3 linked regions of the Homo sapiens genome follow. The protein of the gene in region 2 interacts with the protein of the main gene of each other region in a pairwise test. Each region holds a gene or a part of one and is shown on either strand. Other genes may lie near its edges.

Region 1 (7,659 bases), on a different chromosome or scaffold from region 2:
AGAGCTTTTTATTCTTCTGTTTAAGGGTATTTTGCTTTCAATTATCATCAATGAGTTTCACGCATATAAACAGAAAAAGTGAAGGTAACACTCTAGTCTCCAGGTGACCTTTGACAAATAATCAGTAATCAATGTTTCTTGAACTGAAGATAATTTTATTAAACACCAAGAGAATATAAGCAGCAATCGAAACATTCTTAAACTGAAGTTAAAAGGCCTCAGTGGCCAGGCGTGGTGGCTCACGTCTGTAATCCCAGCACTTTGGGAGGCCGACATGGGCAGACTGCTTGAGTCCAGGAGTTCAAGACCAGCCTGGGCAACATGGCGAAATCCCGTCTCTACAAAAAATACAAAAAGTAGCCAGGTGTGGTGGCATGCACCTGTAGTCCCAGCTACTGCAGGGAGGGGAGGAGAGGTAGGAGGATCGCTTGAGCCTAGCAGGTTGAGGCTGCAGTAAGCCTAGATCACGCCACTGCACTCCAGTCTGGGTGACAGAGTGAGACCCTGTCTCAAAAAAAAAATAAAATAAAAGGCCTCAGTGTAATAAATTGTTAATGTGTATCTTCTTGAGCTCCTGTAAGAAAAGGGTCTTTGTTTAGTTCACTGCTATATCCCCCAGCCCCTCACAGTGGCACATGCTAAGAGCTCAATAAATGTACTGAATCGATTAATGAAAGAAATTCCATTTAAAAATCAAAAATAAAGGCACAGTCATAGAGTTAAAAAGGAATGAGTCATTAAATCCAACTTCCCACCCCAAATAGAATTTCCTCCTTTCAACATTTTGCCATTTCAACCACTTCTAGGGACAAGGAGTTTATGAAATTTTTAGACAGTCTATTCCAATGATGGAACAATCCCAAACCCCTTGCCTCTATTTCTCCCTCCACTTCATGCCACGTTTAAGGTAGTAATCTCCAAAACTGGATGCATATATCCTAAAGTATTATCAGATGATTCATAAGGATGTGAGAGGAAAATGAGACATTCTATATTAAATTTTCCAAATTTAGATTGAAAAGTTGTACTTATATTTAATATACAAATGGGCACTGGCACCTTCCTTCAAGCCACATATCAAACTGGTACAAAGAGAAAACTAGTAGTTCCACAACAGAGAAGGATTAAGAGTGGTGCCCTCAGTTGGATGTTCCTTCCACTTCTGCACACTGAAACATTTCCACATACATTCTATAGAATAAAACCAGACCTTTAAACAGTAGAATCTTTGTAAAGAGAAAGTGAATGGCAATTACCTTCTGGTTTCCTGGTTTCTCCTATGGCCAAGTGTTTAAGGGTTGGATTTAAAGATAAGCATTTTCCTTTTACACAGAGAAGAATTCTCCACTGACTATTTATGTATTTATGACAATGACTATCAGTAGTACATGCTACCTAGCAGATATTTTCCAAAAAACAAAACATACTTAATCTGTCTTTTCAAAATAAAGATAGCACTTTAATAATGAGTAAGAAAGCAACCACTTTTCAAAGACTACTTGTACTATGAGGAGAACATTTGAAAAACTGTATTTGGAAATGTTTCCATTGTTCCATGATTTTGTTGCTGAAAACAATGTCTATTAAAAACATTGCTTATTTTTTAAGTCATTATCTATATAGTTTACAAAATGTTTAAAAACATGAAAAGACTATTCCAACCAATCTAAGTCTTCTGAACAAAGAGCTTGAAAAACTGAATTTTAAACCTAATTGTGTGTATATATGCAATGTCAATTAGCCATAATAGAAAAACTAATTGAGATCAGGAATGAAAGGAATGTCATTGCTGAGTTCAACAAAATTCTTTGCATAATTGATCATTTAGAATTGAAACAGTAGGAGTACAGCAATTCTTCAATTAGCATCAGTTTTTCCATTAGGATCTGTGAATCTCCGAAGGTACCTTTTTTTCAGTCATGTAAGTCATTAAAATCAAGTATCTGGCTGGGTCCTATGGCTCATGCCTGTAATCTGAGCACTTGGGAGGCAGAAGTGGGAGGACCACTTGAAACCAGGAGTTCAAGACCAGCTTTGGCAACAAAGCAAGAGAATGAATCCTCTACCAAAAAAAAAAAAAAAAAAAAATCAAGTGTGAAAATAAACTGAATTTGGAATCAGAACTCTGAACAGCTGTATCTAAGGGTCACACTAAGATTTATCCTAACCATCAACACAGCACATGAAAATAAATCAGCAACAGCAAATGTTTACTGGATGCTTTGACATTATCATTTTAGTTTACAAAACCCGCCCATCAAGAACAAAACATCATCCTCAGATTAAGTTTAGTAATAAATCATTTTGCCAATGATTCTGAACTCAAACTATAAAATTCAAATATCACTACCTCTGATTTCCCATAAGGACTAAATAAAACCTCACAAATGAAAGTGCCTAGTACAATGCCTGACATAAATACATACTCAATAAACATTAACTGCCTTTCTTTTGATCTTAGGCCATGTGATGTAATACTTGCTAGATGTGTGATGGGGCAAACTGCTTAACTCCATCTGTAAAATGGAAATATTAATGCCCACCTTATAGGGTTAAAGTCATTAAAGGATAATGCATACAAAGCCCTTCCACCCACAAAAGGCATTAATAAATCCTGAACCCTCTTTTTTCAAGATAACCTATTCATAACTGTATCAAAAGTATAGAATCATGGGTTGTTGAATTCAAAAATATCCTTCAGAATCCCTATCTTTTGGAAGAATTACAGGAATACAATACCATAAGACGGACGACACAGAGATGAAGTGTGTGCTCCATTAGTGTTTACTGAACTCAGGTGAATTGCTAAGTCCATTATCACTCGGCTAATTGTGGCGGTCTGGAGAGTCTCTCCAGGGGTAGGACTCTCACCTCCTGGTGAGCGACTGGGTCTTACTGCTCTCAAACCAGGGCTCTTTCCACTATCTTGTGTCCTCTCCCTAGTTTATGTCAGGTACATACTGATAAAATTATATACTGATTTATAGTCTCTAGCACAAATTCGCTTAAGGGTCATAATAAGGTATTTCCATAATTTAAGATTTTCTGTGGCTAAGGAAGTAAGGGTTGGGCAAAGGGTAGAAGTCACTCTATTCCTGTCAAACCCAAAAGTGAATATACTTTAAGTAAAATGCTATGCATTGAACACACAAATGCAGGTACGACTGCATGTGGTGAGTCGAAATTCAGATGAAGCACCTGTATAGCAATGAGTGAATTCACAGCCTCTAGATGACAAGTAGAAGGCAGGTTTTAAAATGTCTGAAAATTGCAACTTCAGCGCTTTTGCAACACCTGCTTTTACGATCTGTCACGTGGAGCAAAGAGGCATAACTCAACAGCACTACTAGGGCCAGACGACCATTCACAGGCTGGATACACAAACCTATCTTGTAAACATATAATCAAGCAAAAGCAGGCAAACCGGCACAAGAGGCCTTCACCTAACTTTCTTCCAGATGGCAAACGCTGCACGATGACAAACAAGGCAAACATGGTGCGCAAGCAGCCAACCCAAAACAAATAACTAGGGATTCTGACATCCAAAGGTCCTCTTCATCCTTAATCCTTCCAGAATGTCATCCCACAAGGCAGGGTTTGTTTGCCACAAAACCCTGCGGCCCCTCACATCCCGAGGGACAGTTCTGGTCACCTCCTCCCACGGACCTATTGAGCCTGCTTCACAGACCCCCGAAGCACTGACTCAATTATTCCCACAGTGTAGATTCCATTACATCTGTTAAAGTTTCCGGAACACGTGATTTAGGAGAGCAAACTTGTTAGAAACAGATTAAACAACACTCTAACACATTTCTCTGAGCCGTGTCACACTCGGGTCCAAACAATTCCCAAGGAGGGACTGACTGTCACCAATCTTGGATGGCACTGGTTCAAAGCGCCCTAAAGAGGGGAGCGAGCCCCGCCCGGCTCGCCGCCGGCAGCTCTTACCCATTTGTCCAAGGGGACCTGGGCGAGGGACCCGGTGCCTTGGTACAGGTCCAGGCTGAGCTGCTCCAGGCTCAGCTTCTCCTGCAGAAAGTGGCCCAGGTACCTCTGCAGGAGGTACCGGCAGGCCCTCTTCTTGATGGACTCCGAAAACGGCCAAGGCATAGTGACTGCTGGCAGCTGGGCTGACTGCGGCTGCGGGTTGCGACGGCTCCGGCCTCGGGGTAGCGACTCCGGCTCCAGGCCGCGGCGGGGCCTAAGCCTGGGGCGGCCCCTCCATCCCTATTTGGTGCCGGGAGTCCCTCAGGGAGACCCCATCGCCGGCGCCGCACCGCTCGCGCTGGGCCTGGCGGAGGCAAGACGCAGAGGGGTCCTCCTGGCCCCAGGCCAGGGGACTTCCGAGGAGGGTCCCAACCGGCTCGGAGAGAGTGCAAGAGAGCGCGAGAGGAGGCGGCAGGGGCTGAGGCAGCCACCGCCACTGCCGCCGCGCGACGAATTTGTTGTCATCCGCGAGGCGCGTTCCCGGCTGTAGGGACGCTCCTGGCGCGTTCACGAGACCCAGACTCCCGGCGCGCCGCCGGGCGCTGGCGGAAGTGACGCCACACTGGGGCCGCGGAAGGCGGGCAGAAGGGCGGGGGCTGGAGCAGTTCCGGCTCCGAGGGGGCGGGGCGGAAGAAGGCGGGGAGGGAGGGGGCGGCACCGCCGGTCGGCTCCAGTCGCCTCCGGAGGAAGGAAGAAGAGGACGCCGGGCGCGCAGGTGAGCGGCAGCCGGGGTGGCTGCGGGCGAGGGGCGGCCCCCGAGAAGGGCTAGGGGCTCGGGGCGCCGGCGGGCCGTCAGGCCTTCCGGATGGGGACGCGACGCCATGCAGCTGGCTGGGCCGAGAGGGGCGGCAGGCTGCAGGGGCCCCGCGCCCGTGTTAAGAGGGGTCTGGGGGCCGGTCTGGCCGGCCTGGCTCTCCCGGCTCCCCTCAGACCTCGGCGCCCCGGAAACGCACACTTGGGGCTCCGCCGTCTCCGCTGGGAGGACTGGAGCCCTTCTCGAGCATCCCCGCCCGCACCCGAGCATTGACCGGTGCCCATTGTCAGCAAGTTCTTCGGCCCCCGCCTCATTCAGGTATTGTTTCTGAGGCAGCTTCTTCGTTGCCGTTTGCCTGGCGGTTTGCAGAGCGCTTCTCGCATACGCTCGCTTAATCCTGGGTGTGTCATAGCAACGATCAGGAAACTTGGGTTTTCGAAGCATCTGTGGGCAAAACTGCATTCCTTGAGAAATGCTAAAGGCTCCTGACCCCGCCGGAACCTGGGTGAAGAACTTGGGCTGTTCTGGCAGTCTGCGCAATCGTATTTCTGCCTTTTGGGAGGTAACTCCTGCAGAGGCGGAGCCGGCTGTTAAGTTAAGTCAACCTCGAAAGGCCTGGGTGCGGGTGTTCTATGGCCCAGAAGCCAGATGTCCTTCGTTAGAATCCCGGCACTGACACCTATTAGCCGCCCAGCCACTTTGAGCGGCCACTGCCCTCCCCGAGCCCACGTTGCCTCCTTTGCCGAGTGTGAGCGGATTAAAATCTTATGTGCATGGATTTGTTGGGAAGATTAAATGATATGAGTAGGGCACGAACCTGAACAGAGTCCTGAAACATACAGCTGTTTAATCACAGTGAATTAAGACGACCAGTTTAAGGAGTGAAATGTTTACTGTCTCGGCAACTTTCATGAATGCCTTGGAAATACAGCCCAAAATATTGGTAGATGGAGAAACATCTGGTTCCCCTTTCCACAACCACCTTTTCGTTTTAGAACCAGGGTACTTTGTATGCAGTTGCTTGGATTGTTGATTTCCCTCATTCTTTGTAGACTCATCTCAAGTATTCTCAGTAACTTAGATTCCCTTGCTCTTCATTCAGAAATATTTGTTAAGGTCCATTAAATGAAAGTCACCACAGTTGATCATGTGAACAGTGTCAAGAATCAGGCCGAACCTTCAAGGAGTTTATGTTCTAAAACGGAAGCATGGTGGTACCTGCTTGTGGAGGCTGAGGCGGAAGGATCGCTTGAGCCCAGGACTTTGAGGCTGCATAATTGCATTGACGCTATCCATAGAGTGCCTGCAATTTCAAATATCAGAAAGGATCGTACGAGCTATGATCATGCCACTGCACTCCAGCCTGAACCACAGAGCAAGACCCTTTCTCTCAATAAAGTGGAAGTTTGTTCATTTATTCAGTAAATATTTATTGATTGCCTTCTGTGTGCCAAGCACTGTTCTAGGTACTGGGATTACAGCAGTGAACAGATAAATCTCTTCCTTCCTGGAACTTACATTTTATTGAAGGGAGGAGACATACAATAAATGAGTGAATAATATGCTTTGTGGTGATAAGGGCTGTTGGAAAAACGAAAGCAATGTAAAGGGAGTGGAGATGGGGAAGAGAGAAGGGACTTGCCATTTTTATATGAGATGGTAAGAGAAATTCTCTTGTTTAATAAGATTACATTTTAGCAGAAACTTGGAGAAAGCTGGGAAGTGAGGCACATGTATACCTGGAAGAGTTGTTTTCCATGCAAGGGGAACAGCAAGTGCAACGCCCTGTCACGGGAGAATGCTTGATGAATTTAGGGAACATCAAGAGTGAGTGAAGGAAAAAGTAGAAGCTGGGCAGTTTGGGGGTGGGGGGTGGGGCGGGCGGGGCGCAGAGGAAGCACATCATGTAGGGCCTCGTAGGCCATTGATAAGAACTTTGGAGCCGGGCACAGTGGCTCACTCCTGTAATCCCAGAACTTTTGGGAGGCCGAGGTGGGCGGATCACTTGAGGTCAGGAGTTCAAGACTAGCATGGCCAACATGGTGAAACCCTGTCTTTACCAAAAATATATAAAAAATCAGTCAGGTGTGATGGCGTGCACCTGTAATCCCAGCTACTTGGGAGGCTGAGGCAGGAGAATTGCTTGAACCCGAGAGGCGGAGGTTGCAGTGAGCCGAGATTGTGCCACTGCACTCCAGCCTGGGCAACAGAGTGAGACTCTATCTTAAAAAAATAAAAAGAACTTTGGCCTTTACTCTGGGTGAGGTGGATTTAGGAGAGGAGTGACACAGTATGGCCTAAGTTTCTATGGGATCATGCTAACTGCTGTTAAGAATAGTCTGGTGTGGAAGTGGGAGGGCCAGAGTGAAAACAGCAGAACCAGTTAGAAGGATATCACCGTAATGCAAGGAAAAGATGACAGTGGTTTGGACCAAAGCGGTAGCGGTGAAAATGATTAGTTAGAAGCAGTTGGATTCTGGATATATTTTGAAGATAAGACATGTTTGTAAATAATAATTCTAATATTTGCCATAAAAGGAATACAAACAAGGTGGTATGAAAAGGCAAAGGTGGGATCTTGCAAGAAATTAGAATAGGCTTTGGAAGGTTTGAAATAGACTTCTGACAAATAGATACAATTTGGACTTCTTTCAGCAGTTATTAAATAAGTGGTTTCCTTTTTCAATATAGAATTGCATTCGGGCTATCCATAGAGTGCCTGCAATTTCAAATATCAGAAAGGAAAATTAAAACGACGGTTTTGCAATAACAAATATGCTCTATTCAGAGTATTGTGTGTTGCCTTGTAAACTTTATGCTTTCTAGGAGAAATTCAGTATAAATGTTAAGGTTTAGGACCTGTCATTATGATATCTTTGGCTACAGTAGGGTACAAACTCATCTCAAATCACAGTGCC
Region 2 (7,035 bases):
CTGAGGTCATAGAGCAAGTGCCCCAGTCAAGGCTGGAATCTGATTCCCAAACCCTCTACCTTAACCATTTGGTTACACTTCTTCCCAGGAGAGAAAGGGACCTGGCAGGGCTAGCGCGGGTGGTTCTGAAGGTCGCGCTCTTCCCAGGTGTTTGGCCAGCGCAGAATGGAATGGAGGTGCCCTGTGAGCTAGGAGAGGCTCAGGGAACTAGAAGGAGATGGAGGAAGTGGAAGTTGAGGAATAATTGGTGTTTAAGGGCCTGGCATTTGGAGCTTAGACTAGTCTGGATGTAGGAGAACTGAGCCTAGACTGGAAAGGAACCAGACCAGGGCCTCGGTCTTGGCAGGGAGGGCCCTTGGGCAGGAGGAGCTCCAGGGTGTCAGAATTTGATTGGAGTTGAGTTCCAGAAGTAAGAGGGATGTAGGGGCAGGGAGTTCCTAGGCCTCACTGAGGAATAGAGAATGGGGAAGAATGCTGAGACCGCATTCTGGGAAAAGTCCAATGCCTGGAGTCTGGGACTCAGGATCCTAGATAGAGTTCGAGGACCCAGATGCTTCCACGGGACCAGAGTGAGCTGGATGGCCACTACCTGTCTGTTGTTGCTTGTGCCAGGTAGGGGGGCAAGCCTCATGTGCCCATGCCTGATTTTTTTTTTTTGAGATGGAGTCTTACTCTGTCACCCAGGCTGGAGTGCAGTGGCACGATCTTGGCCCGCTACAACCTCTGCCTCCCAGGTTCAAGCGATTCTTGTGCCTCAACCACCTGAGTAGCTGGGATTGCAGGCATGGGCCACTATGCCTGGCTAATTTTTTTTTTTTGTATTTTTAGTAGAGACAGGGTTTTGCCATGTTGGCCAGGCTGGTCTCGAACTCCTGACCTCAAGTAATCCGCCCCCACCTCGACCTCCCAAAGTGCTGGTATTACAGGCATGAGCCAGCATACCTAGCCCTGATTTTTCAAGACAAACTGAAAACTGGATTTAGATGTGAAATCTTTTTTTTTTTTTTTTTTTTTTTTTTGAGACGGAGTCTCATGCTGTCACCCAGGCTGGAGTGTGGTGGCGTGATCTCGGGTCACTGCAACCTCCGCCTGCCGGGTTCAAGCGATTCTTCTGCCTCAGCCTCCCTAGTAGCTGGGACTACAGGCGTGTGCCACCACTCTCGGCTAATTTTTTGTATTTCTAGTAGGGACGGGGTTTCACCGAGTTAGCCAGGATGGTCTCTATTTTTTTTTTTTTTTTTTTAAGACAGAATCTCGTTCTGTCACTAAGGCTGGAGTGCAGTGGTGTGATGTCGGCTCACTGCAACCTCTGCCTCCTGGGTTCAAGCGCTGCAACCTCTGCCTCCTGGGTTCAAGCAATTCTTGTACCTCATCCACCTGAGTAGTTGGAATCACAGGCGTGCGCCACCATGCCCAGCTAATTTTTTTGTATTTTTAGTAGAGATGGGGTTTTGCCACGTTGGCCAGGCTGGTCTCGAACTCCTGGCCTCAAGTGATTTCCCTGCCTTGGCCTCCCAAAGTGCTGGGATTACAGGGGTGAGCCACCATGCCCAGCTGTTTTTTATTTTATTTTTATTTTAAGGCTGGGTATGGTAGCTCATGCCTGTAATCCTTGAACTTGGAGAGCCCGAGGCAGGAGGATTGCCTGAGACTAGGAGTTCAAAACCAACCTGGCCAACATAGCCAGGTTCTTTTAAAAATAATAATAATAATAAATTTTATCTTATTTATTTATTTATTATTATTATTTTTTGAGACAGAGTCTGTCGCCCAGGCTGGAGTGCAGTGGCGCGATCTCAGCTCACTGCAAGCTCCGCCTCCTGGGTTCACGCCATTCTCCTGCCTCAGCCTCCCGAGTAGCTGGGACTACAGGTGCCTGCCACCATGCTTGGCTAATTTTTTTTGTATTTTTAGTAGAGACAGGGTTTCACCGTGTTAACCAGGATGGTCTCAATCTCCTGACTTCGTGATCCACCCACCTCAGCCTCCCAAAGTGCTGGGATTACAGGCGTGAGCCACCACGCCTGGCCCTGGCCTATCCTTTTTAAAACTTTATTTTGGAGAAAAAAATCAGAAGGTGCCATTTGGCTTTTACATGTCAGCAATAAGTTGAAAAAAAATTTTTTTTTAAGTGGGGTGGCTGGGCGCGGTGCCTCACGCCTGTAATCCCAGCACTTTGGGAGGCTGAGGCCTGTGGATCATGAGGTCAGGGAGGCTGAGGCAGGTGGATCACAAGGTCAGGAGATCGAGACCATCCTGGCTAACGTGGTGAAACCCCATCTCTACTAAAAATACAAAAATTAGCTGGGCGTGGTGGTGCATGCCTGTAATCCCAGCTACTTGGAAGGCTGAGGCAGGAGAATTGCTTGACCCAGGGAGGCAGAGGTTGCAGTGAGCCGATATTGAGCCACTGCATGCCAGCCTGGCAACAGAGCAAGACTCTGTCTCAAAAAAAAAAAAAAATGGGGTGAAGAAAACACATCTGTGGCCTGGGTTTAACCTGTGGGCTTCCAGCTCCTGTGGGAGGGGAATAGTCTGGAGACAAGGAATTGGGGGATACTCCAGGGGACCTTGGAGCTGGGACACAGGGAGTAGCTGCCTGGCTGTTGTTGGGAGTGAGTGTGAGTAGGGAGGAGCAGCCGAGAGAGTTGGTTGTATTCTGAGACTCTCCCTTTGCCCTCAAGAACCGAGAGCTGCAGATCATGCGTAAGCTGGACCACTGCAATATTGTGAGGCTGAGATACTTTTTCTACTCCAGTGGCGAGAAGGTGAGATCTCGAGGTGGTGGTGGTGGGTTGCTCCAGCCATTTTCCTGCCTGCCTGCCTTTCCCCCACTGCTCCCTGCATACCTTCCTTCCCCCTCCTCACTCTTCTCACAGTGCCTCACACCTCTCCTTTGCTCCCTGCAGAAAGACGAGCTTTACCTAAATCTGGTGCTGGAATATGTGCCCGAGACAGTGTACCGGGTGGCCCGCCACTTCACCAAGGCCAAGTTGACCATCCCTATCCTCTATGTCAAGGTAGGCCAGCAGGTGGGCTGCTGGGACCCAGGCCCACAAAGCCAGGGGCTCTGGAGCCTCCTGCCTTTTATGGGATCCCTCATCCGCCAAGTTTATGTTGGTTTTTGGAGGCCCCATGTCCCCTGCTGTTGTTCCCATAACCCCCCGAGATGGAGCTCGCCTAACACAGGGGAGGGCCAAGGCAGGCAAGGCCTGACTGAATCAGGAAGGCAGCCTGACACCTGGGGTTGCAGAAGCTGCCAGGTAGTTGCTCAGGTCCATACAGGGAGTCCAGTGGCACCAGAGATGTTGGAGTTAGCTCAGGATAAGGGGGTGGTGGGGACCAGGACTGCACAGAGACAGCTGCTGAGGCCAGAGTTCGGGCCTTTAGAGCCTTGGCTGGGGGTAGGTGGGAAGGAGTTAGGGCTGGAGGAAGGTTAGCATCCACAGAGCCAGGAATGCATCTCCGTCCATCATCTGTGCAGGCTCATTCCCCAGTGCCTGGCATCGTGCCCTGGGTGTTACAGACCTTCAGGAGGTGTTTGAATGAATGAATGAATGATTGCAGCCCAGGGATGATGTGGCGAACAGGCTGGAGCAGCCTACTGCATTGGAAGGAGGTGGGTGGGTTTGTTTGCTGAAGGTCACTTGGGGCCCAGCTGCTGCTCCTGCTGGCTTTACGTACCAAGCACGGGTGAGCCGACGTGGGCTCTACCAGTGGTTGTGGCTGTTGGACCTCACTTCCCAGGAGGGGAGCTCTCTGGTTTGGCGAATCTGTCCTGTGGCTGCCTGCATACGGGTCCCAGGGCTGAGGAATTCCAGAGGCACCACTGACTGCGACCCAGGCCTTGGCCTTGAAGAGCTCTCAGTTTGGTAGGGTAGAAAGGCGTCATCACAGAAAACTATTAAATGAACTAGCTGCTGCCATACCAGAAGGAGCACAGGGAATTCTGGAAATGGAGGAAGCACCCAGCCTGGTTTGTGGGTGAGAAGGATCAAGGAAGGCTTCCTGGAGGAGACCAAGCACAGGGCAAGGAAGTGGCATCTTTGGCCGAGGGGAACTGGAATAAAAGGAAGGGGGCCTAGGAAGCAGCCATGTCAGGACCTGGTCTGTCTAGGCCCTGGGGGATGCAGCAGTAACTGAAACTCAAAATCCTGCTCTCACGGTACTTCTGTTCTAGTCAGTGGGAGGGAGAGTGGCAGGAAAATGGAGCTGGAGAGGGGGCAGGCTCAGGGGTGGTTTTGATTGTCGGATTAAGGAGCCAGTGGTTTTGGTGAGGGGGAAGCTGAGTGCCTGGCTCCCTAGCCTGTTTTATGACAACCTCCCGATGTACCTTACTCATCAGGCTTCTGCCAAGGGTTGTGATTAAAGCAGTGGTTCTCAGAGTGTGGTCCGGGGACCAGCATCAGTGCTGGAGAGCTTGTTGCAAATGCCTCATTCAGAACTCACTGATCAGAAACTCTAAGAGTGGGGCCCAGCAGTCCCTTTTTTTTTGTTTTTTTTGAGACAGGGTCTCTGTCACCCACGCTGGAGTGCAGTGGTGCGATCTCGGCTCACTGCAACCTCCGCCTCCTGAGTTCAAGTGATTCTTCTGCCTCAGCCTCCCGAGTAGCTGGGATTACAGGTGTGCACCACCACGCCCGGCTAATTTTTGTATTTTTAGTAGAGACGGGATCTCAACATGTTGGCGAGGCTGGTCTTGGCCTCCCAAAATACCGGGATTACAGGCGTGACCCGCCACGCCCAGCCAGTAGTCCCTGTTTTAACAAGTCCTTCAAGTGATTGTGGTGCACATTAAGAGAACCAAGGTTTCAAATGGGTTTCCCCAAAGCTGTGGGGGCAGCAGGGAGAGTGGGCCTGGAAGGGCTCTTCAGGCCAAGCTGGTGGGGTAGTGGTGCTGTATGGGGAAAGCTGGGCTAAAGTTCTGCTATCCTGTGCCCGCCGCAGGTGTACATGTACCAGCTCTTCCGCAGCTTGGCCTACATCCACTCCCAGGGCGTGTGTCACCGCGACATCAAGCCCCAGAACCTGCTGGTGGACCCTGACACTGCTGTCCTCAAGCTCTGCGATTTTGGCAGGTGGGCCTGGGGCATGTTGGGTGGCTGAAGAGGCAGGGGGGACCCCAACCCTTGCCTCACGTGTACCCCTGCCCATCTCTTCCCACAGTGCAAAGCAGTTGGTCCGAGGGGAGCCCAATGTCTCCTACATCTGTTCTCGCTACTACCGGGCCCCAGAGCTCATCTTTGGAGCCACTGATTACACCTCATCCATCGGTCAGAGTTATGGGAGGGTGGCGGGGGGAGTGGCAATCTGGGAAGTTTTGGAGTTTTCTGTGTGCTGTATGCCAAGCTTGGTGATGAAAGCTTAACTTCTGTTCTTGTATCCAGTCCTCACAAACTTAGGAGGCTGATGCTGTTGAATGCTAATTTTACAGATGAGCTTAGAGCTGTGAGGCCGCCTGCCCGCACTGGCACCACTAGGACTGGGCAGGACTGGGATTTGAAAGCTGACCTGACTCCAGAGTCCATACCAGCTCTGGAACCTCCCTGTCAGCCCTCTGTTCTCAGCTAGGGGGAAGGGCTGCTGGAGACCTTGGGGGAACCGGGAAGCAAGGCTTTGCCACCATGAAGGTGCAACTTGCTCCCAGGGCCTCTGTGTCCTTCCCTGTTTGTGGGGACAACTGCCATTTTCCAGGCATGAGGGGAAGTCTGAATTGAGGGAATGGGCATGAGAGTTTGAAAGGGCACCTTCCACAGCAGCATGACGAACTGTGGAGTCCTTAGGTATGAACTCGTGCTGTGGGGGTCAAGGTACAAAGCAGGGAGGGGTGAGACTGCCACGCTGCAGCTCTTCTCATGGGCAGGAGAGAGGCTGGAACAAGAGGAAGGCAGTCCAGGATTTAAGGCTGTACCTTCCTGTGGCCCAAAGAACATGGGTGCCTGTTGGCAGGTTTGGGCCTAATTTGGTCTGTCGTCCAAGGCTAGCGGGAGAGAAGGAGCTCATTGGGGTCCTTAGCAGAGAGAGGAACTGAGGGCTGGAAACACACCTAGACTAGAGAGTACAGCAAAGGCAGGGTCAAGGTCGGGCCCATGTTTCTAAGCTGCATGTGACCTTGGGCCAGGTGCTTTGTCTTTGAGAAAACGGGGCTCCTGACACTCTTAGGATGGCCATGAGGAATAAAAGCATTGGGAGGTTGGTGGCCCTACTCGCCTAGCCCTGACGCTCCCTCCATTTCCCCTCAGATGTTTGGTCAGCTGGCTGTGTACTGGCAGAGCTCCTCTTGGGCCAGCCCATCTTCCCTGGGGACAGTGGGGTGGACCAGCTGGTGGAGATCATCAAGGTGAGGGGCGGGGCTGGGCTGGGCAGGGGGTGGGGCTGAGGGATGGGGCCCTTGTCTCAGACCCCTCCCTCTCTTTACAGGTGCTGGGAACACCAACCCGGGAACAAATCCGAGAGATGAACCCCAACTACACGGAGTTCAAGTTCCCTCAGATTAAAGCTCACCCCTGGACAAAGGTGGGGCAGGGCTAGGGGCTCAGGGCAGTATGGCTGAGAGCTGGTCCCCCTTGGAGGTCAACTGTTCTGTGGACCTAGCCTCAGAATCACGGCTTGGGAGGATTTGAAGAGTTATCCAGGGATCAATAACATCCATCCGCTTTCAAAGTTTATGGCATTTTAAAAGTTGAGAACCCACAAGTAAATTCAAGATTCCAATTTTTATGGAGGGTCAGCAGGGCTCATATAGTCCCAGACCTGGGCTGCCTGCTTACCCGATACAAACTGACCTCTCCTTAGTGGTTGGGCCTTAGTTTCTTCATTTGGAAGGTGGGGGTGTGGGAAGCAACCAGTCATAACTTGCCGCAGGCACTGTGGCAGTGAGATAACAGGAGTATGCCAGTGTCCAGGGCATCTCACCCTCATGAGCCCTGCACCCATCCCTCAGGTGTTCAAATCTCGAACGCCGCCAGAGGCCATCGCGCTCTGCTCTAGCCTGCTGGAGTACACCCCATCCTCAAGGCTCTCCCCACTAGAGGC
Region 3 (6,525 bases), on a different chromosome or scaffold from region 2:
ACACGCTGGACACGCCCCCTTGTGCCCCCCACAGGCTTCAGCCCTTTCTCCTCCACCTGGCGCCAGGGCCATGAGAAACAAGGGGGAGACCAGGAGGCCATGAGGCTCTGCGTGTGGATCCCTGGACCGAGGCCACCAAGCTGTCCACGTGGACTGAACAGGCCGTGCTGGACCGTCGGGCTCGCTCAAGCAGCCAGGGCACAGGAGGCACCATGTGCCCCGAAACCTGGCGGGAAGGGCCGTAGGCCTGCTGCACCTCCCAGCAGCCACGAGGGTCTCGTGGAACAGAAGGAACGAAGACCTCCTGGACTACACGAGCCACCAGACGCCAGGGCTTCAGCCCGGCCGCGCTGCCCCGTGCACCGGAGGCTCCGGCCTGGCCGCGCTGTCCCGTGCACCAGAGGTGCGGTGGGCTTGGTTTTCCCACCTGCGCAGTAGGAGGAAGGGGAGGAAACCCCCCCCCGAGGGCTGGCACTGCAACCGGCCGTGTGGGGCAGGGAGACCTTATTTACACTTTATTGACAGACACAACACGTATGTATGTGCGTCGCAGCACAGGCCCTGTGGGCAAGACCGGACGCTCATGATCCCAGGGATAAAAAATCTGTCCGCGAGCGGGCAGGGGGCCCGGGCAGGGGGAGTGCGCTTCCCAGGGCACCATTCGCTTAAAGTGTGTTAATGACTTGTCCAGCAAGTTTCTTTACCTTCCCACACCCCTCTTCTCAACGTCCCCCCAGAGTCCTCAGGGGGGCCTTCGACCTGCAAAAGCCTCACAGGAGTGCGAGGGGCCCCAGCTCCCAGGGCGGCCGATGGAGCCTCACACGGTCACCTTCTCCATCACGCTTTCAGCCACGTGGACTTCGTCTGCCTGGACGGTGACAGCTGCTGACTGGCCGCATATGTGCTGGTGATCCTTCCAGTCCTGGAAGGGAGGACACACCCATGTCAGCAGGGTCAGTGGGTGGAGCAGGGTCTGGGCAGGGTCCCCAAGGCAGACCCCAGAGGGTGCAGCCCTCTGTAACCTCACCTGGAGGTGCTGAGAATGCCCTCCCCAGCCCCCGTGCGCCCAAACTCTGGTGGGCTCTGCTCCAATACAGCCTTCCCCACACTCTCTTGGTTTGAGGAATTGGATCAAAAGGCAAACAACAGGCAGGGCACGGTGGCTCACGCCTGTAATCCCAACACTTTGGGAGGCCCAGGAGGGTGGATCCCCTGAGGTCAGGAGTTCGAGACCAGCCTGGCCAACATGGTGAAACCCCGTATCTACTAAAAATACAAAAATTAGCTGGGCATGGTGGCAGGCACCTCTAATCCCAGCTACTCGGGAAGCTGAGGCAGGAGAACTGCTCAGCCCTGGGAGGCAGAGGTTGCAGGGAGCCGAGATGGTGCCACTGCACTCCAGCCCGGGTGACAGAACAACTCCATATCAAAAAAAAAAAAAAAAAAAGTCAAACAACAAACCAGGGTAAGACTCTCCAAACCAGTTGTTTTGTGTTAGGGATGTAAACAAAAAATATCACACATGCAGAAAAACATTTAAATATGTAAATATTACATATGTAAATTACGATCAAGTTCTGTGGGGGTTTTTTTGTTGTTTTTCGGACAGAGTTTCGCTCTTGTTTCCCAGGCTGGAGTGTAACGCGCAATCTCGGCTCACCACGACCTCTGCCTCCTGGGTTCAAGCAATTCTCTTGCCTCAGCCTCCCTAGCAGCTGGGATTACAGGTGCACGCCACCACACCTGGCTAATGTTTTGCATTTTTAGTAGAGACAGGGTTTCACCATGTTGGTCAGGCTGGTCTCGAACTCCTGACCTCAGGGGATCTGCCCGCCTCGGCCTCCCAAAGTGCTGGGATGACAGGTGTGAGCCACTGCGCCCCGCCCCAGTTCTGTTTTTAATGGCAAAGATGAAAAAGCAAACTGGAACCAGCCCGTGGCTGCAGAGAAAGGAGGTGGGGGATGGTGCCTGGGAGAAGCCACAGCTCCTGTGAGGTCAGCACACAGAACCAGGCTCTGCCTCCCTGCTACGTCGAGCACCTCGGAATGGAGCAGAGCTCTAGAGGAAGCGCCAGGTGCTGAAGCTGAGACGGCCTCGTCAGACAGAGGCAGCTCCGTGCACGGGGGCGTGATAGGTACGTATATGACACACAGAGCAGAAATAAATGCTTCCAAATGGTGACAGAGTTATTCCCTAGAGAGCAGAATTCCAGCTGATTATAATAAAAGAGCAAAATTAGGCCGGGCGCAGTGGTTCACGGCTGTAATCCCATCATGTTGGGAGGCCGAGGTGGGCAGATCACCTGAGGCCAGGAGCTCGAGACCAGCCTGCCCAACATGGCAAAACCCCATCTCTACTAAAAATACAAAAACTAGCCGCCTGTGGTCATGCGCACCTGCAATCTCAGCTACTTGGGAGGCTGAGGCACAAGAATCACTTGAACCTGGGAGGCAGAGGTTGCAGTAAGCCAAGATTGTGCCACGGCACTCCAGCCCGGGCGACAGAGTGAGACTACGTCTCAAAAAAAAAAAAAAAAAAAAAATTAAAATTACCTGGTAATAGACTATAAATCTACATAGCATGAAAGCACATACATCAGCAAACTGCAGCATCGGGTGCAGACCCACCGCCCGCCCCTCCCGGGCCTCCACTCTGGGGCAACCAGGAAGGGTTCCGGTTCCTGCCGAGACTCTGTGTGGGGTGAGGGGCCTGCACCCCTCATGGGAGCTGCCCCCCGTGAGAGGATGTGGGCGGCGGACAAGGCCCCCAGGAGTTCTAGATGCTTCCTTCTCTGGTCTACAGGTTTGAGCCACTCCCTGGGGCCTGTGCAGATGGAGGGAGAGAGGGCGCACATCAGTGTTGACTCTGAGCTACAGAAGCTTCCATCAGGTTCTTCCAGCAAAGAGGCAAAGGCCCAGGGTTGACTTTTAAAATCAGAACTACTCAGTTCTTTTTTAAAGCAAATTTTTCCATCTTAAACATCAATGTGATGCTTCTTACAGTATAATGCTAAAACACTTTTGAAAAAAAAATCATTATCTGAAAAGCCAGAATTAGAAGTTAGCGTTTCAGTTTTTGAAAAACGGAAAAAAATGGTTAAATTCACAAGAAGCTAACAATGAAAGTGCCTGATACAAATAAATGAGAAAAGCCAACATCACAGACTGTAAAAACAATGACTTCGGGAGGTTGAGGTCACTTGAGGTCAGGGGTTGGAGACCAGCCTGAGCAACATAGCAAAACCCTATCTCTATAAAAAAAAAAAAATGTTTTAAAATTAGCTGGGTGTGGTGGCTCATGCCTGTGGTCCAAGCTACTTGGGAGACAGAGGCAGGAGGATCACTTGAGCCAGGAGATCAAGGCTGTAGTGAGCCGTGATGGCACCACTGGACTGCAGCCTGGGTGACAAAGCGAGACCCTGTCTATAGAAAACCTAAAATAGGCTGGGTACGGTGGCTCATGCCAGTAATCTCAGCACTTTGGGAGGCCAAGGCAGGCAGATCATGAGGTCAGGAGTTCAAGACCAGCCTGAACAACATGGTGAAACCCCGTCTCTGCTAAAAATACAAAAATTAGCCGGACGTGGTGGCGGGTGCCTGTAATCCCCAGCTACTAGGGAGGCTGAGGCAGGAGAATCGCTTGAACCTGGGAAGTGGAGGTTGCAGTGAGCCAAGATCGCGCCGCTGCACTCCAGCCTGGGTGACAGAGCCAGACCCTGTCTCAAAAACAGAAACAAAACCAAAAACAAACGAACAAATAAAAACCAAAAATAAGTAATGAAATAAAAACAGTGACTAAAAATCCAATTAAAACACAATCCAAATCTGACTTACAGTGATCCAGGCCTCACAAATGAAAATAATGATGCGTGGGGCTTGCTTTAAAATGCTCAGCCCTCAGCCCAAAGAGAGAGGGGGACAAGCCAGGAGGGCAGGCGCTAAAGCAGCTGATACAGGTGAGGGCGACGGGCCTCTCCTGGGCGATCCAACTCATGTGCACGTCTCACATTTTCCAAAGTTAAGGATTAAAAGAAAAGTGTTGCCACCACAGCACGTAGGTGACTCAATCCAGGCAGTGCTGGGAGCAGGTGGGTGGACTTGACCCAGGCGGTGCTGGGAGCAGGTGGGTGGACTTGACCCAGGCGGTGCTGGGAGCAGGTGGGTGGACTTGACCCAGGCGGTGCTGGGAGCAGGTGGGTGGACTTGACCCAGGCGGTGCTGGGAGCAGGTGGGTGGACTTGACCCAGGCGGTGCTGGGAGCAGGTGGGTGGACTTGACCCAGGCGGTGCTGGGAGCAGGTGGGTGGACTTGACCCAGGCGGTGCTGGGAGCAGGTGGGTGGACTTGACCCAGGCGGTGCTGGGAGCAGGGGATTCCTGTTGGGGCTTCATAACATGCATAAACTCGTGTATACTTTTGTGTACATACCAAGTCCTCTACAATTAATTTTTAAAATTATCACTGCCTTTTTTTTTTTTTTTTGAGACGGAGTCTCCCTTTGTCTCCCAGGCTGGAGTGCTGTGGCACGATCTCGGCTCACTGCAAGCTCCGCCTCCCGGGTTCATGCCATTCTCCTGCCTCAGCCTCCCGAGTACCTGGGACTACAGGCGCCCACCACCACGCCAAGCTAATTTTTTTGTATTTTTAGTAGAGACGGGGTTTCACCATGTTAGCCAGGATGGTCTCGATCTCCTGACCTCGTGATCCGCCCGCCTCGGCCTCCCAAAGTGCTGGGATTACAGGCGTGAGCCACCGTGCCCAGCTGAAGGCAGCTTTTTAAAGAACAGGATCTGAGGGAGGCTTGAGGACAGGGTGTCCTGGGCTGGAGGTCCGGCTGGAAGGCAGCTTTTAAAAGAACGGGATGTGTTCGTTCTGTAGGTGAAAGGAGCTCAGTAAGTGCTTATATTGGGGCCCAAATAGTGTTTGCCAGGAATGTATACACTCAGCCTCTGCAGTACACTTTCCCTGCTTGAGGAAATTCTATCCTCCTACTGAAACTGAGATAAATTAAAATGTATATTGTAATACCTATAGCAGTAAGAAAATAACAACTTTAAAGATACTGTTTAAAAATGTTCAACAAAAGAATTGAAGTGGTACACTAGAAAACACAACTAGAAAATACACATTTAACAGAAAAGAAGGCAGTGAAAGAACAGAGGAGCAAAACATGAAACATAAACTGCAAATATAAACACAAATCCACTCACATTGATAATTACATTAAACATGAGATTAGGTTTTGCGCAGTGGCTCATGCCTATAATCCCAGCACTTTGGGAGGCCAAGGTGGGAGGGTTACTTGAGCCCAGGAGTTCAAGACCAGCCTGGCCAACATGGCAAAACCCTCTCTCTACGAAAAATACAAAAATTAGCCTGGCATGGTGGTGCATGCCTGTAATCCCAACTACTTGGGAGGCTGAGGCAGGAGAATCGCTTGAACCCGGGAGGCAGAGGCTGCAGTGAGCCGAGATTGCGCCACTGCACTCTAGCCTGGGCAACCGTGCGAGACTCCATCACACACACACACAACAACAACAACAAAAACGGGCATGGTGGCGGGTGCCTGTAATCCCAGTTACTTGGGAGGCTGAAGGAGGAGTATTGCTTGAACCCGGGAAGCGGAGGTTGCACTGAGCTGAGATTGTGCCACTGCACTCTGGCCTGGGTGACAGAGAGAGACCCCACTTAAAAAAAAAAACAAAACAGCTGGGTGTGGTGGCTCACACCTATAATCCCAGCAGTTTGGGAGGCCGAGGCGGGCGGATCACTTGAGGTCAGGAGCTCAAGACCAGCCTGACCAACATGGTGAAACCCTGTGTCTACTAAAAGTACAAAAATTAGCCGGGTCTGATGGCACACTCCTGCAGTCCCAGTTACTCGGGAGAATGAGGCACGAGAATCCCTTAAACCCAGGAGGTGGAGGCTGCAGTGAGCCGAGATTACGCCAGTGCACTCCAGCCTGGGCAACAAAGTGATACTCTGTCTCAATTCAAAAAACAAAACAGGCCGAGTTCCAGTGCGGTGGCTCACACCTGTAATCTTAGAACTTTGGGAGGCTGAGGCGAGTGGATCACCTGAGGTCAGGAGTTCGAGACCAGCCTTGCCAACACGGAGAAACCCCATCTCTACTAAAAACACAAAAATTAGTTGGACGTGGTGGCTCATGCCTATAATCCCAGCTACTCAGGAGGCTGAGGAAGGGAAATCACTTGAACCCGGGACGTTGAGGTTGCAGTGGGCTGAGATCGTGCCATTGCACTCCAGCCTGGCGACAGAGTGAGATTGTCTAAAAAACAAAAACAAAAACAAAAACAAAAACAAAACAAAAAAGTAGATTAAACACTCCAATCAAAAGGCAGAGACTAGTGTGGTGGTTCACACCTGTAATCCCACCACTTTGGGAGGCTGAGGCGGGTGAATCTCTTGAGGTCAGGAGTTTGAGACCAGCCTGGCCAACATGGTGAAACCCGTCTCTATTAAAAATACAAAAATTAGCTGAGTGTGGTGGCAGGAGCCTGTAATCC

Evidence for each region. Proteins that work in one complex are often made in the same cells at the same time.
Region 1: the proteins of GSK3A (region 2) and GSKIP interact in binary tests that used the Homo sapiens proteins (3 or more experiments, as listed by UniProt).
Region 3: the proteins of GSK3A (region 2) and DEAF1 interact in binary tests that used the Homo sapiens proteins (3 or more experiments, as listed by UniProt).

The regions. Positions count from the first base shown.
Region 1 is NC_000014.9:96,358,867-96,366,525, forward strand, and holds the start of GSKIP (GSK3B-interacting protein), read left to right. Parts: upstream 1-4,659; 5' UTR 4,660-4,702; intron 4,703-5,869; exon of another isoform or gene 5,870-6,400; intron 6,401-7,659. Other genes in the region: ATG2B (autophagy-related protein 2 homolog B), read right to left, coding at 3,949-4,110. UniProt on the Homo sapiens protein: A-kinase anchoring protein for GSK3B and PKA that regulates or facilitates their kinase activity towards their targets.
Region 2 is NC_000019.10:42,232,591-42,239,625, reverse strand, and holds part of GSK3A (glycogen synthase kinase-3 alpha), read left to right. Parts: intron 1-2,684; coding exon 2,685-2,768; intron 2,769-2,909; coding exon 2,910-3,020; intron 3,021-4,947; coding exon 4,948-5,078; intron 5,079-5,166; coding exon 5,167-5,273; intron 5,274-6,242; coding exon 6,243-6,340; intron 6,341-6,420; coding exon 6,421-6,516; intron 6,517-6,943; coding exon 6,944-7,035. UniProt on the Homo sapiens protein: Constitutively active protein kinase that acts as a negative regulator in the hormonal control of glucose homeostasis, Wnt signaling and regulation of transcription factors and microtubules, by phosphorylating and inactivating glycogen synthase (GYS1 or GYS2), CTNNB1/beta-catenin, APC and AXIN1.
Region 3 is NC_000011.10:643,733-650,257, forward strand, and holds the end of DEAF1 (deformed epidermal autoregulatory factor 1 homolog), read right to left. Parts: intron 2,824-6,525; coding exon of another isoform or gene 2,797-2,823; exon of another isoform or gene 2,600-2,796; intron 923-2,599; coding exon 818-922; 3' UTR 501-817; downstream 1-500. UniProt on the Homo sapiens protein: Transcription factor that binds to sequence with multiple copies of 5'-TTC[CG]G-3' present in its own promoter and that of the HNRPA2B1 gene. Down-regulates transcription of these genes.